Regions from separate parts of the Homo sapiens genome. Here regions 1, 2, 4, 5, 6 and 7 are each reported to be linked to region 3. Evidence: microRNA targets listed by miRTarBase, many of them from high-throughput screens and not tested one by one. Region 3 holds a microRNA gene; each other region holds the end of a gene's coding sequence. Distances are from middle to middle.

Region 1 (3,077 bases), not on the chromosome of region 3:
GTATAATCTTTTTTTCCTCCATTTCAGGCTGGCTCACAGTTGGACCAACGCTTACAAATAGCAACTACAATGCAGAAACATATGCATCCTATTTCAGTGCTCCTAATTCCTACTTGACTGGTTGTACAGAAGAAATTGAGAGACTTCGACCAAAATCGCCTCCTCCCAAATCTAAATCTGACCGAGGAGGTGGAGCTCCCAGAGGTGGAGGAAGAGGTGGAACTTCTGCTGGCCGTGGACGAGAAAGAAATAGATCTAACTTCCGAGGAGAAAGAGGTGGCTTTAGAGGGGGCCGTGGAGGAGCACACAGAGGTGGCTTTCCACCTCGATAATTGTTGAAGACATTGAACCTATTCATCCTCCTCTAACCTTCTTTATTGTAATTAAATTTCAAGTGGGAGACTTAACTTTAGAACTCACTTCCAGCTTGCACTTTGCTTTAATTTCTCTGAGCTGCAAGAATGTCTTAGCGAGCCTTGCTTGCAGTTGTCACACACACTGTCTGGTTTTTTTCAGGATAAATGAATGATTCTGCCTTTTGTTATGTGCGTGAACAGAATGGAACAACTCAAGTAGCTTCATCTTCAGAGACTGAATTTATTCTGATAGACTTCAGCTAATTACAAAGGATTTTGCTAATTTTTGGGAATAAATAATGGAAAAAGATCCAGTCTGTGGTATCATGCTAGTGCTGACAGGGCCTTGATAGAATAGAGTTGGAAAAGATGGTAAGCTTTTGTCAGGGTTTTAACATTTTCTTGATGAAACAATAAAAAGAGGTAAGCTTTTTTCTTCTTTTTTTTTAAGTTTTAAATAAACTCAGATATAATTTGAATACTGAAGAAATTAAGAGACTTTGAACAAAAACTCTTCCCAAATCTAAATTTGATAGGGGAGGTGGAGATTCCAGGGGTGGGTGAAAGAAGAGATAGAACTTAGCAGGCAGACTTAAAAAAAAAAAAAAAGTTTATCATCATAATCTCAATTTTGTGGCTATGACTCCTAATCACGCTTCCTAAGAAGCAAAGGAGGACAAATATTCATGTGCTAGATAGCACTGTGGTGTGGACTTGAACTTGGATTGACCTTAAATTTTATATTCCTCAAATAAAAGAGAGGCAGCGACAAGATACCTCATTATCAGATGCTTGGTTTATACATTTTGGGACTAAAATACTTGGTGATGAAATGACATACACCTTTAAACTTGTTATGGAGATAGTTTAATGTAAAACCAACTACGGAAAACCCTCAACTTAAGGATACAGCTTGGAAATTGGAACTGCAATTGCCTTTTATTAAAACCATATGGTGTGATGTTTGTTTTTAAAATTATATAAGACTTTATGCTGTCACTTCTCTTGCTGTACTGTAATTCATGTTTTAAATGAATTTGATAATGAAATTATACTATTATCATTCTTGATGAATACTTTTCTTATTTTTATGATTTTTCTAATGAAACTTTAAACTTTTGAGATTTGAGAGTCTGTTTTCTATAAGTAGAATTACTGTTGTTACAAAATGAAAAAGGACTGACCTAAAATCAGTCTCTTCTTTTGGTCTGTGATGGATTTTAATGGCCGTTCTGTGCTCATATATACCTAAGATGAGATTATATTACATCCACCAAAGACTCAGTTTGAAGATAAGGAATGAGTGATAGAAGAAATAAGGCTGAGATCCTTAAAAGCCTAATTAATTTAACTCGCTTAACCCATTAGTACTATCTAGTACAAGACCCCTTTTTTTTTGCTGAAATTATGGTATATTTTCAACTTCACTAATTACAAATTATCTAGATTTAGAACTCTATATGTCAGCATTGACCTGGGAATGAAGTCAGGATAGAGAAATTCCACTTGCCTGTGATGGGTCCTTAGAAGTATCAGCTAAGGAGTGACCCTGTCCTATACACAGGGCTCTCTATTACGTTCCATACCCTGGGCCTACCCAAGGTGACATTCCTGCTGTTTACATGGCATAGGCACCTGTGAGATCAGTGTCACAATTTCATCTTAGAAAGAGGTAGGTATGGCTGCTTTGTCGGTTGAAAGTTAAGGGGAGCCATGATCTACCATATTTAGGAAAAAGTTATTTAAAAAAGAGCAGATGGTGGAAAAAGAATGTAAGACCCAGAATTTATCCCTTTGACAATGAATCTGGCCTTTTTAATAGCAGGATGGAATTGATTCACTAGTTTTTGCTAACTTTCACTTTCAGTAAAGGTTGAGGTGTTGTTTTTGCAATGACTGTGTATTCATTGAGGAAAGGTTTCCAATGAAATTTCATTACTCTGACCTCTTCTAATTTTTGGTCTTCTTTATATTTACATGTCTTACATTCCACAAAATTATTTAGAAATGCTGGGCATGGTGGCTCATGCCTGTAATCCCAGCACTTTGTGAGGCCGATGTGGGTGGATCACTTGAGGTCAGGAGTTTGAGACCAGCCTGACCAATATGGAGAAATCCCATCTCTACTAAAAATACAAAATTAGCTGGGCGTGGTGGCATGTGCACGCCTGTAATCCCCGCTACTCGGGAGGCTGTGGCAGGAGAATTGCCTGAACCCAGGAGGCGGAGGTTGCAGTGAGCCGAGATTGTGCCACTGCACTCCAGCCTGGGCGACAGAGTGAGACTCTGTCTCAAAAAAAAAAAAAAAAATTGTATAGAAATAAATTTTTAGTTGCTTTATGCACTAATTCCTTACTGGGGATAGAAGCTAATTATTGTGAAATAACCTAGTTTAGAAGTTAGAAGATCAGCATGTCTGAGTTTTTACAGAATTATAATTCATGGTATTCCAAACCAACTGTTGTTATTTATTTCCAGTGAGAACCATTTTCCCACTGACCTTCCTCCTTTCAGAGGATGGGGATTAGGAGGCCCAAAGTACTGATTGAGTAGGAATACTTTTTTACTCTTCTTCACTGTGGAGAAAGAAGAGGGCAGGTAGTTGATGATGTCAGGAGAACAGATTTTATGGTGTGGAATACCATACCTAAACACAAATGAATCAGATTAGACCACAGAATTGTGATGATGGCAGTCAGAATGTAATACGGTCATCATGAA
Region 2 (3,072 bases), not on the chromosome of region 3:
AGGGGTAGGGAAACCCAAGGTGAGCCGGTGGTGGGGGCTAGGTCTCTGGGGGCTGATGAGAGCCAACTGCTGCTTGGTCAGGGAGGGGGCTGGGAAGGCAAAGGGTTAATGGACTCTGAGATCTGTGGGTCCTGTAAACAGATGCAGTTGCCATAGCAACCAGCTCCATCACTCTGGCTGGAAAAACCCACAAAGGCGGGGGGGGGGGGGCAGCAGACAGACAAACTGCCCGACGGACTAATGGAGGCGGCTGGATGGTGGTGGGGGGGGACATAGAAGATAAAGCAACAAAAATGCCAGAATTCCACCCCCCACCTCACGGGCTGCATGGGAGCAGAGGACGAGGGCAGAGGAGGGGGTCAGAGACCGACTGACATACACACAGACAGGCGGGGGCGGCGGAGGAAGGGGGGCCCCGGGAAGAAAGCCGACCACGGGGGGTGTTAATGGGGGCGAAGCCGACAAGCCGACGGCTGGGGGATAGCAAGTTTCCCCTGGGCTCTGAGACCACCCGCCCTGGGTCCCTCCAGCTCCGCGTGGCCCCTGCCCCCCACCCCGCCCCCAGCCCCAGCCCCAGCCCGGCCTTACGTGCCAGATGACAAAGAAGATGAGGGAGGCGCACAGCACCAGGGTGAGCATGTAGCAGAACGCGGCGAAGGTGAACGCCATGGCCCCCGCGCCGGGCGGCGGCCCGGGGGGCGCCAGCGCGGGGCCCGGGCGCAAGGGGACGCCCCCCGGCCCGCGCTTAGGGCCGGCCGGGCATGGCCCGTGGGGCTCGGGGGACGTGGGTGATGCGGCCGGGACCGGGACCGCGGGGCCGTGGGGGGCGCGGGGCGCGGGCCGGTGGGCTCGGGGGGCGCGTCCGCTGCCGGCTGCCCGGGCCCCGATCGCTCATCCTGCGATCCCTCGCCCGCGGCTCCCTCGCTCTCCAGCCCGCGAAGCCGGCGGGGCGGAGCCGGGGGCGGGGCCGCCGCGCGAGCGGCCTCGGGCGGGGCTGGGTCTCCGCGGGCCCCTCGTCTGCCCGCCCGGCTCGGGCGCCACCCCCAGCCCCGACAAGCCCGCGGCCGTTCACCCTCCGGACAGCGTAGACGCGGCCGCCCCCGGCACCCCGCACCCCTCGGCACTCCAGCCACCGGCACAGCCGCACTCGGCCCCCTCGGGCGGGCGCTCAGGGCAAAGGCTGAAGTGCGAGGCACTTGTCACTGTCGGAGACGGCAGAAGCACCTGGCTGGGACACACAATGACGCCAGGACAGGGGCTGAATGGGAGCAGTGGGGTTTTGGGGGGCGCTGAAGGAGGTTGGGCCAGGTGCAGTGGGGGCCCTCTCAGCGGCTGCGCGACCCCACACCTCTGCCGTGTGCCCCGCGGGAGTTGGCGGCGGCACGCCAGGTATGAGCTGATGGCCGCCTGCCTCTTTCCCTGACAGAACGGTGCTGGGCCCTTGGGGACAGACCACAGAAGCACAAGCAGCTTTCCTGGCCTCAGGAAACGGGGTCAAGGGCTTTTGCCAGCAGCCTTAGGACACAGAAACCAAGCCAGGACCCCCGTGCACCCCACCAAGCCCAGGGTTCCAGTTCCATCCCCCCACCCCAAGGCTGGGCTTAGACCACAGACCACACTTGGCCACCACAACTTCCTTGCAAAAACCCTCAGCTCACCCGAGGGCCAATGGAAATTTATTAATTTTTTTTGTCCTTTTCCATCTTTCCCCAAGTGGCTTTTCCTTGCAAAATGCCTGACATGACACCAGAGGGGAACCTGGGAGCGGGGGGCACCCCAAGGGGGCAGCCCAGGGACTTAAATACAAGCTGGAGGGCAGGGCACAGGTGGGACAGGCAAGAGACAGCACGAGGGACATGGCTTCTCAGGGAGACCAAAGACTTGCTTTCTTGCAGGAAGCAGCTGTGCCAGAGGGCAGGGGACTAGGATCCTGGGTGCAGAGTGGGTGAGCAGAGAGGCCCCCAATCCTGGATGGAACCCACATTCCCCAGAGAAGTAGCGGCAGGGGATGAGGGCCTTCCCTGGTGGGCTCCAGAGACGGAGTGGGGAGTGAGCCAGATGTGCTACCTTGGGGAAAGGGAGGAGGTGCTAGCAGAGTGAGGGTTAAGGCTGGTGCCCAGCCTCTGGCACGGTGGGCCTTCCGCCTCCGCCTGACATGGGGACAAAGGGGCACGGTGGGCAGGCAGCGCATGGGTCTGTCTCTGGCAGGGCAGAGGGCGGCAGGAGCAGACTCCCTCCAGGCTCAAGACACAGGCCCAGCACTGCTACCCGCCCACCCGCCCTAGATATACTCAGATCCCACCGCAGCTGGACGGCTCGAGCTGGGAGTGTAGGAAGGGAGAGGAGGCAGTGGGGAGAGGAAAGGGTGGGCTGCTGGGCCCCTGTGGCCTCCATGCCTGTCCTGAGGTCCAGCCCAGGGCCCTGGATCCCAGGTCCTGGATCCCCTGGCCACATTCCTCGCCCTGGGCACTGACTGCAGCCAGGGCAGTAGAGGCCGGGGAGACCCTCAGTTCTTGGGCAGGACAGCAGGAAGAAGAAGGAGAGAACCCAGTGCAGCATACATGGGGGTGGGAGGGACACCGACAGAAGAGCCCTCGTTCCAAAGAAAGGTGTGTAGGGGGGCATCTTGGAAAGTCACCTAGAGGCAACAGCACAGCAGGCCTCCGCCCTGCCTGGCCACAGGCCCTGAGTGTCCTCCCTTAGGGACCCTGACAGAACCGGGGCTCAGGGCAGCAGGCAGATGGGCCAGAAGGAGATGGGGAGCCCAGGACACCCCAAAGCCACAGACTCAAATGCCCCAGGAGAGGGAGAGGGAGGTACCTCCTGCCCCCTCCAGGGACATCATCTGGAGAAGGTGCCCCCTCCTGTCCCACTCCATGTGCCCCTCCTAGCAACAGCCACCGCCAGCCGGCTTTACAGGGGTGCTGTCGATCTTGAGATTGGGCCGCTCGCCCCCAGAGGCTGCTCCAGGCCCCATCCGCTTTTTGATTTCAGCAGCCATGGTCATGAACGCCTGCTCGACATTGGTGGCATTCTTGGCGCTCGTCTCCAAGAAGGGGATGCCCAGAGAGT
Region 3 (3,077 bases):
GGCTGCCGCAATCCTCATTTTATTAACCAGAAAACCGGGGCTTACAGGGATGAGGTCTCGTCCCAGCTATACAGTGAGGGGGCAAGTGGTTCCGGCTGCCTAAGCTCAGGACTCCACACTGACGGGGCCACACTGTTCCTTCTGGGCCTCGTCCCCCGCCTCTAAGGCCCTCCTGGTGCTGGCCTAGGTCAGGCACAGTGGAGAGGTGGAAGCAGGAGCCTGGCTTGGTCAGAGGGGTGGGGTCAAGGGGGGGCGTTGTCAGCAGGAATTCCAGCAACTTTCCTCAGGACTGCCGCCTCAGGGGCCTGTCTCATCCTGTTCTGGGACCCTGGGCCAGGGTGGCTGGAATGCAGCAGGTCCTGCATTCTTTTACGCCCTCCTGAGGGTCAGCAGGAAGTGAAGGCCAGGCCAGGGAGGAGAGGCAGGAGAGGGAGCCAGGACCGGGACCGAGGGCGGGGTCAGCCCGGGCAGAGGCACCTGGCTCGAGGCTGTCCTGGGGGAGCTGGCAGCAGCTCCAGCCCTGCCTGGAGGTGGGAGCAGGGATCTGTAGCCCCACTGCAGGCAGGGCCTGGAGCAGCGCAGGCAGTGCCCTACCCGCTTACTGCAAGAGAAGTCACCCCTCAGGCCTGGGGTCCAGGAAGCCCTTACCCACTAGAGGCCATCTGGGGTGGGGACCCAGGACTAGGTAACTACCCAGAGGTTGAATGCCTGGGTCAGACTGAGTTTGCTGATCTTCCGCACCCTCTAAGTACACACACTCAGGGAGGAGCCCGAGACAAGAGAAGGGAACAGAGAACCCGAATCCGGGCTTGGGCGGCTGCCGCTTGGCCCCTGTAGCCTCTGTGCCTGCTGACATGACAGCAAGGAGACAGGTTGTCAGAGGGGCCTGGGAGAGCGAGGGAGGGCCGAGGTAGGGGTTCTTATCCTGGAGCGCTCCCTCCTTGCCCTCTTTTCCTGTCTGAGTTCTGGAATGTACTGATGCAGGGGGCTCTGGCTTGAGCTAGAGGGGGAGGGAGTCCTCCGCAGGGGCTGCAGGTCCAGGGATTCCCCAGGGCCTGGACTTACATGTGCCCATGCTGCAGACAGAGCGGGAATGGCAAGTGCACCTGCGCCCCCCGCCCCTCCTTACCTCCAGATGCCTGCTGGAGGGGGAGTTGGGGGTCCAACAGAGTCTGGGGCCAGGAGGGCCTTGTGGGAGCCAGCTGGGGTGAGGACAGAGCCCGGCTCTGAGAGCCCTGGGGCCTAGTAGAGAAGGGGTGCTCCTTCCCCACTCCTCACATGGGTGGGAAGGCGCCCTCAGGCAAGAAGACTGGGACACAGGTACACTCGCCAGGGACCATCCTTCACTCTGCAGCCTTTATTCACTGATGGGATTCTGCCCCAGTCCCACCCCCGTGGGGGCAGGATTTAGAGCAGGAACCGCCCCTCCGGGTCCTTTCCTGGGGCCTGTGCCAGGCTGAGCAGACTCAGGAGGCGTCTCTCCGAGGGTGTGGGCTGTGATGGGGCCCTGTGCACCCATCCAGGCTGCCCAGACCAGGAGAGCACAGGTCAGCCGGACACATGATGGTAATGGGCTGGGCAGTGGGAGGGAAACGTGCCTGGGGGAGGGGGTGGCAGGTGCCAGCTGAGCTTCCCGGTGACACACCCTGGGCTCAGCTGAGATGGGCTCAGCTGTGACGGGGCACCCAGGCCAGGCTGGCTGGGCCACAGGAACCGAGTGAGCTGGTCCAAGACTCAGGACTAGGGCTCAAGCACTCCTAGGGAGGAGGGTGGGTGGCGTCCCCCGCCGGCTCCTCCTGTGCCCCTCCCTCGCGAGGTCCCGGCGGACCCACTCCCCAGCCCCCACCACGCAGACGGGAGAGGCTGACGAGAGGCATGGAGAGGTGAGGCCCGAAACACCCGTAAGATATGGGAGCTCCCCCCACCTGCAGGTTCTGAGGGGCTCCTCGGCGCCGTCAGCCACCTCTCACACCCCCTCACGGCCGCGCACCGGCCCCCGCGCCTCAGCCTCCCCCGCCGACCCCTCAGCCCCGCCCGGCCAACTCGCCCAGCCGGCCCGGCGACCTGCGTTGTTCCAGCTGCCCCAGCACAGCCCCCGTCCCTCCCTCCCTCCTCGGACAAGCACGGGAGTGAAGACACGGAGCCAGAGCTCGGGCGCCGGCCTGGGAGCCCCCGGCAGGCTGGACGCAAGGCGGGCGAAGGCCTGGGAGCCTCGGGCAGGCTGGATCGAGGCGGCCCCCTGAGGCCCGCTGCAGGCTGGACGCACGGCAGTCAAAGGCAGGAGGCCTCCCGCTGGCTTCCTTCTGCGGAGCTCCGGCCCGGCGCAGGCCGGGGCCACAGGTTGTGGTCCTGGACATGAGATGGCAGAGGCCGGCTCTGCAGAGTCCCCCTGCAGGGCGGCAAAGCAAGCCCCCTCCTGGAAGAATGCCAGGGGCTGGGGCCTTTCTGAATGGAGAGCAATGTGCCCAAGACCAGCTGTCATCTTAAATCTCCCCACCCAGGGGCCTCCCCACCCCCAGGGGCCTCCCCACCACTTCTCTCAGCTCAACACCTGGGGATAGAGAGGCCTCAGGCCAGGAGGGAACCCTCCCCATGTCCCTCTCCCTCTCCTTCCTGGCCTTTCTCCTCCTCCAACCCAGAGGGAGGCATTTTCCAACCTAGGGGGTGAGTCCCGGCAGCCCATCCCCTTCCCCCCGTGCAGGGAGGCATCTGGGCCCTTCCGGCCCACCCCTCCCTCTGGCCCTGGGGCTGCTCAGGTCAAGGTCACCGGGCCTGCTCCCCGCTGGGCCAGGGACTGGACCCTCTCTTCCCTGATCCCTGGGCTGAAGTTGCTGTAGCCGACCCATCCTTCCACAGCGCTCCCCTCCCTCAGTCACTGGGACACTTCCCTTCCCCAGTGCTCTGAGGATTTTTTTGGGGGGGAAGGGGATTATTTGTTTAATGGCAGATTCATCCCCCACCTCAAACCCAGAGTCTCCAGTTCCCAGGCTCCTGCTCCTCAGGTTAAAGCACAGAGCTCTTGCTCCCTGGCTCGTAGGCAGCTGCTGTCTCGTTCCATCTTCCCCCTCCCGATCCTG
Region 4 (3,077 bases), 62 Mb from region 3:
TTACACTATCAAAAATTCTATTTAAAAATAGAGGGCTTTCAGATGAGTACATACAAAAACAAACAAAAGTATACATAGGGGTAACACAACCATGAGATTAGTAAATAATACATATGGCTAGCACATAATTTGACACCTTATAAAACAAGAATCTGTACTATCTTTTCCTTCCTCCCAATATTTCTTCATTTCTATGCTCAATTTTCTAATACTTTTTCACATGCTTAATCATTTACTCTTTCATCGCCTTCCCTCAAAAAAACCTGCTCCGTTGAAGTAAACTAAGTAACTCAATATTCTTTATTTTGGTTTGGAACCTGTCTCAATTTTTTGTATCCATATTAAGAAGTCACCCTATAATCTAAACTTTGTAATTCTAATTTTTTTGTCCCATTATCATACAAAGTGCTTTTAAACTTGTTTTTAAAAAATGACAGATAATGCCACATGAATAGGAAGATGATTCATTCTAAAACTTGTATTTACATAATTAAAAATAAATTTATAATCATTCTACATACAATACAGTGTACAAGTATTTCATATATCTGCATGATTGCCTTATGCCTTCATATGCATATATGTGGCATTGAGTGCTGTGACTACATTTTGAGTTCTAGAATTTTTTTTTTTTTTTTTTTTTGCAGGTGCAAGATTTAATAGAGTGAAATAGAGTGAAAACAGAGCTCCCATACAAGGAGGCGACCCAAAGGGGGTTGCCATTGCTGGCTGGAATGCCTGGATTTATATCCTGATCCTTGTCCCTCCCGCTGTGCTCTCAGGCAATAGATGATTGGCTATTTCTTTACCTCCTGTTTTTGCCTAATTAGCATTTTAGTGAGCTCTCTGATTGGTTGGGTGTGAGCTAAGTTGCAAGCCCCATGTTTAAAGATGGATGTAGTTACCTTCCCAGCTAGGCTTAGGGATTCTTAGTCGGCCTAGGAAATCCAGCTAGTCCTCTCAGTCCCCACTCTCAACAGGAAAACCCAAGTGCTATTGGGGAGGTTGGCCGATGACTGCTCTAACTGCTTCCTGCTGAACTGGGGCATAGGAGGGGTTGTGCAGCTGAGATTTCCTTGGGAGGGGTGCCTTCGATGTCATTAACACCAGAGCATGGGCTGGGAGACCGGTCCGGGGGTCTACGGTGGATCTTAGTCATGGACTGCATCTGGGGCTCCATTTGATGAACCATTTGTAGTTTTACAGTTTCAATTCACCTTGGAGGTCCCTTCGTGGTCGCCAAAGTGTTACCGGGGGTCCTTGCTCCCAGAGCTCCCAAGAAGGTGGTGGGCGACTTCCAAAATGGCGGCAGGCCACTTCCAAGATGGTGGCAAGCCCCGTGTTCTCTGACCTGGGGTTGTTGGCCTCACGGATTCCAAGGAATGGAATCTTGGGCCATGCAGTGAGTGTTACAGCTCTATTAGAAGTCATGGGTCACAGAAAAGAACCGTGGAACCCAGTGACTAGTGTTCAGCTCAATTAGGACGAACCCAGGCACTTAGCCGTGCAGGAACAATGGCAAGCCTTTAGCCTGATCAGGAGCGGCAATGGGCGCCTCACTGGATCAGGAGCACAGCGGACACCCTGCCAGATTCAGAGGGATGGGAGTCAGCAGCGGGTCTGTGACGGTGGCAAACAGCAGTGGTGGACGGCGAGCAAAAGCTCAGCTCGAGCCTTAACAAACATGGACCAGAAGAGTGCAGTTGCAAGATTTAAGACAGTGAAATAAAGTGAAAACAGAGCTCCCATTCAAGGAGGGACCCAAAGGGGGTTGCCTTGAGTTCTAGAATTTTAACATTTTATTCATTTTATAATTATTTTAATAAAGGTAAATAGTAATTTAGGTTGTTTGTGTATGAAAAATTCAGATTTCTCAGCAGAGTAGATTAAAAAGATCTTTCAGAATTGAATATGTTAAATGTTTTAAACATTTTCAAAGAAACAGATGTGTCTTACCTGTCTTAACTTCACAATGACCGTATTGCGTTTTATGAAGACAAAACTCGTGAGCATATCCACATCATAGAATGGCAGCCCATTACTACTATCAGTCACCTTGTTAACTGTGTACACAAAACCCCATGTTGAGTTCAGTGTGCTTTTAATTTGATACTGCAATTAAACATTTAAGATTGCATTAAATTATTAACACATTTTTCTCATTTTACCAGACCAAAGGCAATAGTTGAAACACCAAAAGTTGCTACTTGTGCAGTCTTGTCATCCTTACATATTGAACTGAAAGTTGATTGAAAATAAAATTGGTATTTACAAAAATCTCTTAATTATATAAAAAGTTATCTAGGCCAGGCACGGTGGCCCATGCCTGTAATCCCAGCACTTTGGGAGGCCGAGGAAAGTGGATCACAAGGTCAGGAGTTCAAGATCAGCCTGGCCAAGATGGTAAAACTCTGTCTCTACTAAAAATACAAAAAATTAGCCAGGCGTGGTGGCAGGCGCCAGTAATCCCAGCTACTCGGGAGGCTGAGGCAGAGAATTGCTTGAACCCAGGAGGCAGAGGTTGCAGTGAGCTGAGATCATGCCACTGTACTCCAGCCTGGGTGACGGAGCAAGGCTCTGTCTCAAAAAAAAAAAAAAAAAAGGTGAACTAAAATGATAGACTACATCCCAAAAATGATTCTAAAGTGACTGGCATGATTCATAATCTCTGAATTTTATATGTAAATCTTTTTTGATATAAACAATGTTATTAATTTTCATGACAACTTAAGAAATAGACACTACTGTTATAATTGCTACTTTATAGATAGGGAATATGATACCCAGACAGGTTAATTTCTTTTTGCTTTTCTCATTTTAATTTAATTCATCAAAGCAAACCTAGATAATTTAGGGAAGGTTTGTGGCACAACTGCACCTAAAACACCAACACGGTGTATTCATTTTTCATTTTATTTCATCCTCTTGTGCCAAATATCAAAACAAGGAACTGCATGAAGTCTCACATACTTCTGACCATCAACAGAACACTGAAAGCACCCATAAACTGTCTCCCTTTTGAAGTTCCCCATTCCACAGAGTATGCAAGGCCCTTTGGGAATGTTGTGATTAAGTAA
Region 5 (3,066 bases), not on the chromosome of region 3:
CTGTGGACCGCATGGAGACCAAGAACATCTATGAGTGTCCCGTGTACAAAACACGCATCCGCGGCCCCACCTATGTCTGGACCTTTAACTTGAAGACCAAAGAGAAGGCAGCGAAGTGGATCCTGGCAGCCGTGGCGCTGCTCCTACAGGTTTAGCTCGCTCCTGCCTCACAGCCCACACTCCCTGGGGCTGGACCACAACTCAGCCCTTCACCTGTGCACCTGTGACTTATTCTTTACAGGAACTGGTGGTGGTTTTTCGTTCTCTTAAATAATCAGGTGCTTTGTAACCAAGCACATCGGAACCAGAGGGTGGAGGTTGGTGTGGAAGAGGTGGGGCAGATTAAAGCCAGTGGAGCCACTCAGCTGTGCCCATCCATTCTGTGCCTGATGGCCACTGTGAGGCCTGGTTCAGGCTTTGGGGAAAGGCCCCAATTCCCAGCAGCCAGAGGCAAGCATTCCAGGAAGTAAATCCCAAATCCTGACTTCCCGGGGGGGTCAGTGGAGTTTGCTTTTAACAGGAGCAGCATGTGGGGTGAGGGCTTGGCACTCACACCCTCTGGCCTGATGCTTCATGCAAACCACCTGCCAATGAGGGGACAGGGCGTTACCCCATACCAGGAGCTGCCGCCTCCACACAGCGTCTCATCCGCCATTACTCCCTGCTCCCAAAAACAACAGGACCTTTTACAAGTAAGGAAACACACCCAAGCCCCCGCCCCCAGAGTCTAGAAGAACAAGCCGTTCCCACAAGCAAGCCCCGGACCTGTAGGACTCTGTGGCTGGGCTGATGCAGGACACGGCAGTGAGGTGGCCAGGCTAGCTAGGGCAGCAGGGTGCAGGCACGAGGGGAGAGAATTAACTAGCAACCTGGGGGATGAGGGGAGACAGCGGCAAACGTCAGAAAAGACGGATCCCAGGGGGACCAAGACAGGATCAACATTTTTTTTTTTTTTCGAGGGAGAGTGAGAGTTTCACTCTTGTCGCCCAGGCTGGAGTGCAATGACGCAATCTCGGCTCACGTTGCAACCTCCACCTCCTGGGCTCAAGCGATTCTCCTGCCTCAACCTCCCAAGTAGCTGGGGTTACAGGCACCCACCACCACACGCAGCTAATTTTTTTATTTTTAGTAGAGATGGGGTTTCACCATGTTGGCCAGGCTGGTCTCAAACTTCTAACCTCAGGTGATTCACCAACCTCGGCCTCCCAAAGCGCCAGGATTACAGGTGTCAACCACTGTGCCCGGCCCTCAACATTTCTCAGGCTTCAAAGAAAAGCAGGCCGCTGCAGCAGCTCACGCCTCTAATCCCAGGACGGCAATCTTACTTGAGCCCAGGAGTTTAAGACCAGCCTGGGCAACGTGGCAAAACCATCTCTATCAATCAAAAATACAAAAAATTAGCTGGGAATGTTGTATGTGCCTGTGGTCCCAGCTACTCAGGAGGCTGAGGCAGGAGGGTCGCTTGAGCCCATGAGGTCAAGTACGCAGCGAGGCATGATCATGCCACTCACTCCAGCCTGGGTGACAGAGTGAGACCCTGTCTCAAAAGGGGGAAAAAAGGCAAACACACCCATTAGGAATATCGTTCTACGTTCAGCTTGATCATCAAGTTTTGCAAAAACATTTTTCCAAGTTTACTCACCTAAATCATGGGTTAAGAAGCATCTAGAAAGTCCAAATTCTGAGGGTAATGATTCACAACAATCTTAGCGCCCAGTAGGGCTATCGGAGGGAAAAGAAAAATCCTCCCCTCCTGGCGCCCAAGGAATCCAGCCCTTTGTGGCTGCAGAGAAGGGAAGCAGTTTCAGCCTCCCCCAGCCTGGCTGGGCCAATACCTCTGCTGGCCAGGAGGGGTCACTGCAGCCCTTCAGGTGACCAGGGGAGCTAAAGCCACCAGGGGCCACCGGGCAACTCACTTCAGTCCCTGGTAATAACCACAAAATGTGACGTTTTTCCATTTTGCCTTTAGATCCTGAAATAAGAAAGTAATCTAGTCCACACATACATATTGTGGGTAGTTGACAAAATTATCTCTAAACTTTCCAAGAAATGATTCGCACTTAAGCTGCACTCCAGCGACGGGGAACACAGGGACTGGAACACGACAGCCCCGCGCACCTAGAAAGCCGGGAGGACTGCGGCGGCCGCCGCCCGCCGCCCGCTGCTCTCTGTTGCTCCGGCTGCTTTGCAGAGTTAGGGAGGCTTGGTGTGGGGAGCTCCTCAGGGAGAACCTGCCTAGGACAGCCTCGAAGGTCATCAGCAGAGACAGAGGGAGCAGTGTGCGCTGCGGGAACGGCACTGCAGATAGATTGCTTAAGCCTGGCTGTGGCATAATGATATTTACTCTGGTCCCACAGAATCTGGAGGAATGCGAACTCTGTTTACCGAGAGCCTCTCTCCAAACAGAAACCCAGTGCCCCTGCACATTCCTTTGGCTCCTCCAGTCTAATTGTCCCACAGGACACCGTAATAACTAGTTGGAAGGCAAACAGTGTTAACTGATGTGATGTGCTGCTGTCCAGGGCACTGTGGCCAGGCCGCCGCTCCACCTATCCCCAGCCACTCAAACTGCAGGTCTGCCTGGTGCGGAAGCTGCAACTGTCCTTGTCTAAGACCAGGTGAGCCTATGCAACCTTTCAGACCCCATGAAGGGTGACAGTGACTCCTGCCAGCCCTCGGGAGGGAAAGGCGAGAAGCTGCTTCTAGAGAGGCAAAGTGCAGGGACTAAATCTAATCTCACTCCCCGAAAGGACAGGCTGCCATGCCCTGTAGCCCAGGAAGCTTCTCTCTGTGCAAGGGTCAAGCACCTGAAGATGATAAAGAGATCAGGCAGTGAGGTCACAAAAGCAGCTCCTGGAGACACTGGGGGATATGGAGAGCTGGCTTTATAAACACACATGACATGTATTCAAAATCCCCTGCTACTAGGTGACACAAAAATGTTTTAAGTAGATCCAATAAAAATAAAGTTCATTCTTCAAAAAATAAATTGCTAGGGAAAAAACAATCACAAGGTGTAGTCCTTAATTGGACTTCAAGTCAAATAATCGAAAAAATTAATTTTAA
Region 6 (3,077 bases), not on the chromosome of region 3:
TCGGGTTGCTTGGGGGGGAAAAAGGAAAGGAAATCAATTAATTAATTAAATTTAATAATAAAGGCCGGGCGCGGTGGGTCACGTGTGTGATCCCAGCATTTTGGGAAGCAGAGGCGGGCAGATCGCTTGAGCCCAGGAGTTCGAGATCAGCCTGGGCAACACAGCAAGTCCCCGCCCGCCTCAAGAAAAAAGAAAATTAGCTGGGCATGGTGGCTCTAATTTGTAGTCCCAGCTACTCAGGAGGCTGAGGTGGGAGAATCACTTGGGGCTGCACTCCAGCGTGGGTGACAGTGAGACCCCATTTGTTAGAAAAGTTGGCCGGCGCGCTGGCTCACGCCTGTTAACCCCAGCACTTTGGGAGGCCGAGGCAGGCGGATCACGAGGTCAGGAGTTCTAAACCAGCCTGGCCAACATAGTAAAACTCCCGTCTCTACCAAAAATACAAAAATTAGCCGGGTGTGGTAACATGCTCCTGTAGTCCCAGCTACTAGGGAGGCTGAGATGGGAGAATCGCTTGAACCCGGGAGGCGGAGGTTGCAGTGCGCCGAGACCACATCATTGAACTCCAGCCTGGGTGACAGAGTGAGACTCTGTCTCAAAAAAAAAAAAAAGTTGTGGTCATAAAACTTGGTTCAGATGCCGTCAGCGGCATGCCTTGCCTAGGGTCTTGCCCTCCTTGTGGCCTCTGCACACCCTGCCTAGTCTTTCCTTCCCTCCTGACCTTTCTGAATCTGATTCATCCTTTTGCCCCAAGCAGAATCCCACCTTCTCCAGGAAGGTGTTAGCCTTTGTAGGACCCACTCTGGGACACTGGTACCTGCTGCCTGTAGCCGTGGCCTTTCCCCTTCCAGAGGGCAGGGCGGTCTCAGCACCCTCTTGGTCCACAGCTGATCTTTTTTAGCTGCTGAAGGGTCTGGGGCTGTGCCCTGGGGAAGCCATGACACTCCCCTGCGTAGGGTCACTGGGTGGCTCCTGCAGCCAGACTTGGACACCCTCCCTTTGCAGATTTCTGTCTCCTCCCCAGGAACCAGCTGCCTTCCTTCTGGGGCGAATTCATTCTTATCCCACAGCCCCAGCATAATGGGATCTGGCTCAGGGAGGCCTTTCCTGATCTGCCCTAGGTTTGCCTTCCCTGTGAGCAGCCCTTACTGTCCTCTGCCTTCCCCGTTGAGCTGCAGGGTGACCATGGTCAAGCAGGAGCCTCAGTGGGAAGGTGCTGAGGAAGGTTCATGTGAGAAGTGGCTGTGGGAGCCCTCAAGAGATGGAAGTTAGGCCAGGCGCGGTGGCTCACGCCTGTAATCCCAACACTTCGGGAGGCAGAGGTGGGCGGATCACTTGAGGTCAGGAGTTTGAGACCAGCCTGGCCAACATGGCGAAACCCCGTCTCTACTAAAAATACAAAAATTAGCTGGGCTTGTGGCAGGCGCCTGTAATCCCAGCTACTCGGGAGGCTGAGGCAAGAGAATCACTTGAACCCAGGAGGCAGAGGTTATAGTGAGCCGTGATCGCGCCATTGTACTCTAGCCTGGGCAACAAGAGCGAAACTCTGTCTCAAAAAAAAAAAAGAAGTGAGAAGTCTGTGGCTGGCCTACTGAGTGTCCGCACATACACCCCTTACCCCACCTGACTGGTCTTCACAATCAATGCTCCCCAACAGCCAGCGGTCCTGGGAGTCCAACCTCCCAGAAGGATCACCCACTCCCACCACTCTCAAGGTCAGAGCCTGGCCTTTGGGGGAAAGGGCAGTGCTGTCTCCAGGGCCTCTGCACCCAGGGACAGTGTCTGTCCCACCCCTGGAGTGCCAACAGAGTTGGGAGACTCAGCACTGACTTCACCCCAAAATCCAAGTAAGCTGGGTATTGCTTAAAATCAGGGGCCAGGCGTGGTGGCTCACACCTGTAATCCCAACACTTTGGGAGGCCAAGGCGGGCGGATCACCTGAGGTCAGGAATTTGAGACCAGCCTGGCCATCTCTACAAAAAAAAAAAAAAATTAGCGGGTATGGTGGTGCACACCCGTAGTCCCAGCTACTCGGGAGGCTGAGGCAGAATTGCTTGAGCCCAGGAGGCAGAGGTTGCAGTGACCTGAGATCGTGCCGTTGCGTTCCAGCCTGGGTGACAAGCGCGAAAACTCTGGCTCCTGCAGCCAGATTTCTATCTCCTCCCCAGGAACCAGCTGCCTTCCTTCTGGAGCTAACTCATTCTCATCCCACAGCCCCAGCATAATGGTTTCTGGCTCAGGGAGGCCTTTCCTGATCTGCCCTAGGTCTGCCTTCCCTGTAAGCAGCCCTCACTGTCCTTTGCCTTCCCCGTTGAGCTACAGGGTGACCAAGGTCAAGCAGAGGCCTCAGTGGGAAGGTCTAAAAAATAAAAATAAAATCAGGCCAGGTGTGGTGGCTCATGCCTGTAATCCCAGCACTTTGGGAGGTCAAGGCAGGAGGATCGCTTGAGGCCAGGAGTTCAAGATCAGCCTGGGAAACATGGTGAGACTCTGTCTCTATTTTTTTATTTTTTAAAGTAAAACTAGAAGTGATACCTGAGCTCTACGTATTTGTCATAAATTAGGTCACATTCTCCCTGGAGGAAATCCAAGGAGGCAAAGTAGTCGGGTGGCCGTGAGGGTGCAGTGTCACAGGTAAGGCTGGTCCGAGGACAGCTCCCACCTCTTTATGGGAGGAGCTGGAGTCACCGCCTTCTTCTCAGTGGCAGCTACAGCAGAGCTGGAGGAGGGAAAGACTTCAGTGAGGGTTTCCAAAGAACAGTGTGGAAAGATCTGAGGGAGCCCACACCTGCCCCGGGACAAACACACCCACAGGGACTTTCTGGACCTGCAGGACAGACAGCAGGGTGTTCCAGAATGCCAACCCCTCCAACGCAGCCCCTCAGAGGATCAGCCAACGCCAGGTGGGAGCTAGCAAGCCTCCTCTCTCCCCTGAGCCCTGTATGAACCCCCTGCTGTGGCCCCCAGGCCCAGAACCCACTGTGGAGAGCTGGGCTCCTCCCTTCCCACTTTTGGTCTCCAGCGTACACAAGGCCCCCACCCCCATTCCTGCTGCCCCTCAAAACAGGATGCTGGCA
Region 7 (3,070 bases), not on the chromosome of region 3:
ACGCACCCTTCATCCCCCAGACCCGCAGTTCCTGGTCACCTTCTTCTCCCGCCTGAGACCCAACCGCAGCGGGCGCTACGAGGCCGCTTTCCCCTTCCTCTCGCCCTGCGGCAGAGAGCGCAACTTCCTGCGCTGCGAGGACCGGCCGGTGGTCTTCACGCACCTGCTGACCGCGGACCACGGGCCTCCGCGCCTCTCCTACTGCGGCGGTGGCGAGGCCCTGGCCGTGCCCTTCGAGCCGGCGCGCCTGCTGCCCCTGGCCGCCAACGGGCGCCTGTACCACCCGGCGCCGGAGCGTGCGGGCGGCGTGGGCCTGGTGCGCTCCGCCCTGGCCTTCGAGCTCAGCGCCTGCTTCGAGTACGGGCCCGGCGCGCCTGCGCTGCCCTCGCACGTGCGCTGGCAGGGCCGCCGCCTCGCCCTCACCATGGACCTGGCCCCGCTGCTGCTCGCGGCTCGGTCGCCCTGAGCGGGGCCAAGGGAAAGGCGGGAGGCCGCGGGCGCCTCTCGCCCCGCTCCCCCGGGACTCCACGCCCCGGAAAGCCCGCGCCACCCGCGCTCGCGGCAGCCTAGTGCGCCTGCGCGCTCGGCCCCGCCCCCACCCGGCGCTGTCCTTGGTGCTGCCGCGGCCCGGCCCTCCCGGACACCCCGCTCCCCACGGCGCGCGCCCCCCGCGCACCCGACTCCGGCGCCCTCCGGATTGGCCTGCGCTCGAGACGTCAGGCACTGGCGGCGGGCGCGGGGCTCTGGTGCGCGTGCGCGAGCGTCCCCCGCCCCCTCCCAGCCCGGCGACTGCTCGGGCCCGGCCGCCACCTGCACGGCGGGGGAGCCGCTCGCCGCGGGAGCGTCAGGTGAGGGGACGCCCGACCCAAGGTCACCAGGCGTGGGGGCGCTGGGGGATCGGGGACCATCCCGGCTCTGACCCTGGTGCGCTCCGAGAAGGGCGTGGGTCCTGGAGGGGGATGGGGAACGCGGAGGCCACGCCCTCCCTGAGCCCGGCCGAAAATCAACCGGCTCTCGTGGGTAGCAGAGGAGGCCGTGGGGGATACAGGCACCAGGTCGCAGCGCTGCAGAGGTGCGCAAGGGCCGCCCAAAGACCAGCTTGGGCCTCGCACTGCGCCCGAGGCAGACACAGGGCGTTCCATCCTCTTCCCTCCCCGCTCCCGCACAGAGGGGCGCCCAGGAGGCAGTGACAGTCGTCGCGGAATCCTGCGTGTGACACCCCGCCCCTGCCCAGCGGATTAGGGAGTTGTCCTCTGGTAAAAGGATTTCTGGGCTGCTTCCAGCTTGGGGCCCTCATCCCTGCCCTGGCAGGCCTTTCTACACCGATCTGCATCTAGTGGGGGGTCAGCGTGAGCAGCAGCGCCGTGAGTTCTGAGGCCAAGAACCTTCTCCACTTGAGAAGCCTTCCTGGGGGAGGCTGAGTGGGCCAGGCCTGGAGCCACGTACCAACACTTTATACCCAGGGGAATGGATCCCAAGGGCCCAGATAACGCCCCCAACTTCTTGGGGTTCACACGCGTCCTGAGACATCTGGGAACTGCCTCTGCCTGGGCCAAAGCTATTCCATTAAAACTTTATTGCTGTGCTTACTTATTTCTAGTGACTTTAAATAATCATGTGAGTTACAATTTAGGGCAAGATTTAAACACCAAGGCCACTTGGTCCTGTCCCTTTCCACATGACTCGAAAGGAGGAAGAGCTGATGGACAGGCAAATGTTTGGGGAGGCCGGCCAGATGAGGCTGGGAGACAGGACACCTGCAGCCCTGTTTTCCCTGGCTTCGGGTGGGCTGGCTGGCTTAGCCCAGATCCCTACTTTTAAAACTGGGCTCCTTGTTCCTGAAACCAGACCCCAGCCTTCCCATTTCTTTACGACAAGTACATGTATATGGTCCCCCAGCAAACTCCCTGCTCCTTGCTGATCTCAGAGGTCACACTGCTCCCAGAGCCCACTTGGGAAGCCACACCAGAAACCCAGTTGGTGGCCCAAGGCGTCCCCTGTCCCACCCCAGCTTTCCCAGGGCCCCATCTATCCCCAAAGACAGGACACCTTTCTGGGGACCGGCATGGGAAGCACAGACCCATGGCTCCTGAACCGAATTTCCTATTATTTTTCTCATCCCCCAATTCTCTGACAGGTTACCTGAGAAAAAGGCCCAATTCTAGTTAAGCTGGTCCCACCCCTAGGCCAGCAGGAGCAGGTGCTGGACAAAGCTGTGCCTTGACTTCCCTGGGGCTCGTAGCTCCTCTGAGGCCAGCTCTGCCCAGGCCCCCACAGGATAACAAGGAGGCGTGTCTGCCCAGGGCCTGCTCTCCCCCTCCTAGCCATGCTTGGGTAATGGGACCCCGGGCTTTGTCACCTAAGCAAAGTTCTCAAGCCATACCCTGTACTTCCAGCTTCTTGCACCCTAGAACCAAGCAGCAGCCACTTGCCTGGGGGTAGAGTCGGGGGCAGCAAGCGACACACATCCACGTCCTGAGCAGGAAGCTCCTGACCTGCTGGGCATGGGTGGAGAAGGAGAAGGTGACAGGGTTGGGTGGCTCTCCCTACATGGTCACATCCTGTGAAGACACTGAGGACACCAGGAATTCTAAATTTGAACCTGATGCCCCAGAGCTTTAAGAAAATGTTTTTGTCAAAGGAGAAAACCAGAACGTTTTATTAGTTTCTTGAACCTATTTATAGCGTCAAAAGTTAGACGCAGGTGCAGGCCTCCATTCCATCTATTGGCTGGCTCTCGACTGCCGAGACTGGCCTGCCAACCTGTGTTTCAGGAGGGCACGCGTCTGCGGCTGAACCGCGGAAGGGCCGGTGAGGAACCGGGCCTCGGGAGATGGCCCTGAGGGCCCCCGCACTGCTGCCGCTGCTGCTGCTACTACTGCCGCTCCGCGCCGCCGGCTGCCCAGCAGCCTGCCGCTGCTACAGCGCCACGGTGGAGTGTGGCGCCCTGCGGTTGCGCGTCGTCCCGCTGGGAATCCCGCCAGGGACGCAGGTGGGCACCGTGTGGAGCTGCGGGAGGACGGGGTGCCCCCAGGGAGAGGAAGACCCCCGCAACGGGGTAAGCGCCTCC

What was found. Region 3 holds the annotated microRNA hsa-miR-149-3p (AGGGAGGGACGGGGGCUGUGC, at 2,087-2,107, opposite strand). A microRNA usually pairs through its seed, bases 2 to 8, with sites in the 3' UTR of a target mRNA and lowers its output. Matches are read on the target gene's strand: a 7mer-m8 pairs with bases 2 to 8, a 7mer-A1 pairs with bases 2 to 7 and ends in A, and an 8mer does both.
Region 1: miRTarBase lists METTL14 as a target of hsa-miR-149-3p. The part of its 3' UTR that is shown has no 7-base or 8-base seed match.
Region 2: miRTarBase lists RAB1B as a target of hsa-miR-149-3p. Seed matches in the 3' UTR shown: 8mer at 2,569-2,576.
Region 4: miRTarBase lists PJVK as a target of hsa-miR-149-3p. Seed matches in the 3' UTR shown: 7mer-A1 at 2,344-2,350.
Region 5: the mRNA of DNAH17 is a reported target of hsa-miR-149-3p. The part of its 3' UTR that is shown has no 7-base or 8-base seed match.
Region 6: the mRNA of NDUFA7 is a reported target of hsa-miR-149-3p. Seed matches in the 3' UTR shown: 7mer-A1 at 2,421-2,427.
Region 7: the mRNA of C8orf82 is a reported target of hsa-miR-149-3p. Seed matches in the 3' UTR shown: 7mer-m8 at 632-638, 8mer at 773-780, 7mer-m8 at 981-987 and 7mer-m8 at 1,149-1,155.

Annotation. Positions count from the first base shown.
Region 1 is chr4:118,709,971-118,713,047 of GRCh38, forward strand. METTL14 (methyltransferase 14, N6-adenosine-methyltransferase non-catalytic subunit) reads left to right here. Exons shown (of 11, transcript NM_020961.4): 11 at 28-3,077. The coding sequence ends at 332. Among named protein-coding and RNA genes, the nearest start is that of METTL14, 26 kb to the left of the region's middle.
Region 2 is chr11:66,276,054-66,279,125 of GRCh38, reverse strand. It overlaps RAB1B (RAB1B, member RAS oncogene family), which reads right to left. Exons shown (of 6, transcript NM_030981.3): 6 at 1,634-3,072. The coding sequence ends at 2,888. CNIH2 (cornichon family AMPA receptor auxiliary protein 2) reads right to left here and starts at 951. Exons shown (of 6, transcript NM_182553.3): 1 at 589-951. The coding sequence starts at 669. LOC107984340 (a long non-coding RNA gene) reads left to right here and starts at 601. Exons shown (of 2, transcript XR_001748274.1): 1 at 601-631. RefSeq lists a silencer at 846-1,175.
Region 3 is chr2:240,455,086-240,458,162 of GRCh38, reverse strand. It overlaps MIR149 (microRNA 149), which reads right to left and starts at 2,162; the gene lies at 2,074-2,162. The region is part of intron 1 of GPC1 (glypican 1); the gene reads right to left. GPC1-AS1 (GPC1 antisense RNA 1) reads left to right here and starts at 1,463. Exons shown (of 3, transcript NR_161169.1): 1 at 1,463-1,566. RefSeq lists enhancers at 1-259, 2,212-2,862.
Region 4 is chr2:178,461,110-178,464,186 of GRCh38, reverse strand. It overlaps PJVK (pejvakin), which reads right to left. Exons shown (of 7, transcript NM_001042702.5): 7 at 2,085-3,077. The coding sequence ends at 2,913. It overlaps FKBP7 (FKBP prolyl isomerase 7), which reads left to right. Exons shown (of 4, transcript NM_181342.3): 4 at 1-523. Among named protein-coding and RNA genes, the nearest start is that of PJVK, 11 kb to the right of the region's middle.
Region 5 is chr17:78,420,995-78,424,060 of GRCh38, reverse strand. It overlaps DNAH17 (dynein axonemal heavy chain 17), which reads left to right. Exons shown (of 81, transcript NM_173628.4): 81 at 1-364. The coding sequence ends at 155. All of the region lies in intron 9 of PGS1 (phosphatidylglycerophosphate synthase 1), which reads right to left. Among named protein-coding and RNA genes, the nearest start is that of PGS1, 44 kb to the right of the region's middle. RefSeq lists an enhancer at 932-1,511.
Region 6 is chr19:8,308,877-8,311,953 of GRCh38, forward strand. It overlaps NDUFA7 (NADH:ubiquinone oxidoreductase subunit A7), which reads right to left. Exons shown (of 4, transcript NM_005001.5): 4 at 2,408-2,719. The coding sequence ends at 2,629. Among named protein-coding and RNA genes, the nearest start is that of CD320, 2.1 kb to the left of the region's middle. RefSeq lists enhancers at 1-310, 3,065-3,077.
Region 7 is chr8:144,524,738-144,527,807 of GRCh38, reverse strand. C8orf82 (chromosome 8 open reading frame 82) reads left to right here. Exons shown (of 3, transcript NM_001001795.2): 3 at 21-2,075. The coding sequence ends at 466. It overlaps LRRC14 (leucine rich repeat containing 14), which reads right to left. Exons shown (of 4, transcript NM_014665.4): 4 at 2,636-3,070. LRRC24 (leucine rich repeat containing 24) reads left to right here and starts at 775. Exons shown (of 5, transcript NM_001024678.4): 1 at 775-848; 2 at 2,775-2,992. The coding sequence starts at 2,834. RefSeq lists enhancers at 1-48, 906-1,762, 2,495-3,070 and silencers at 591-980, 3,007-3,070.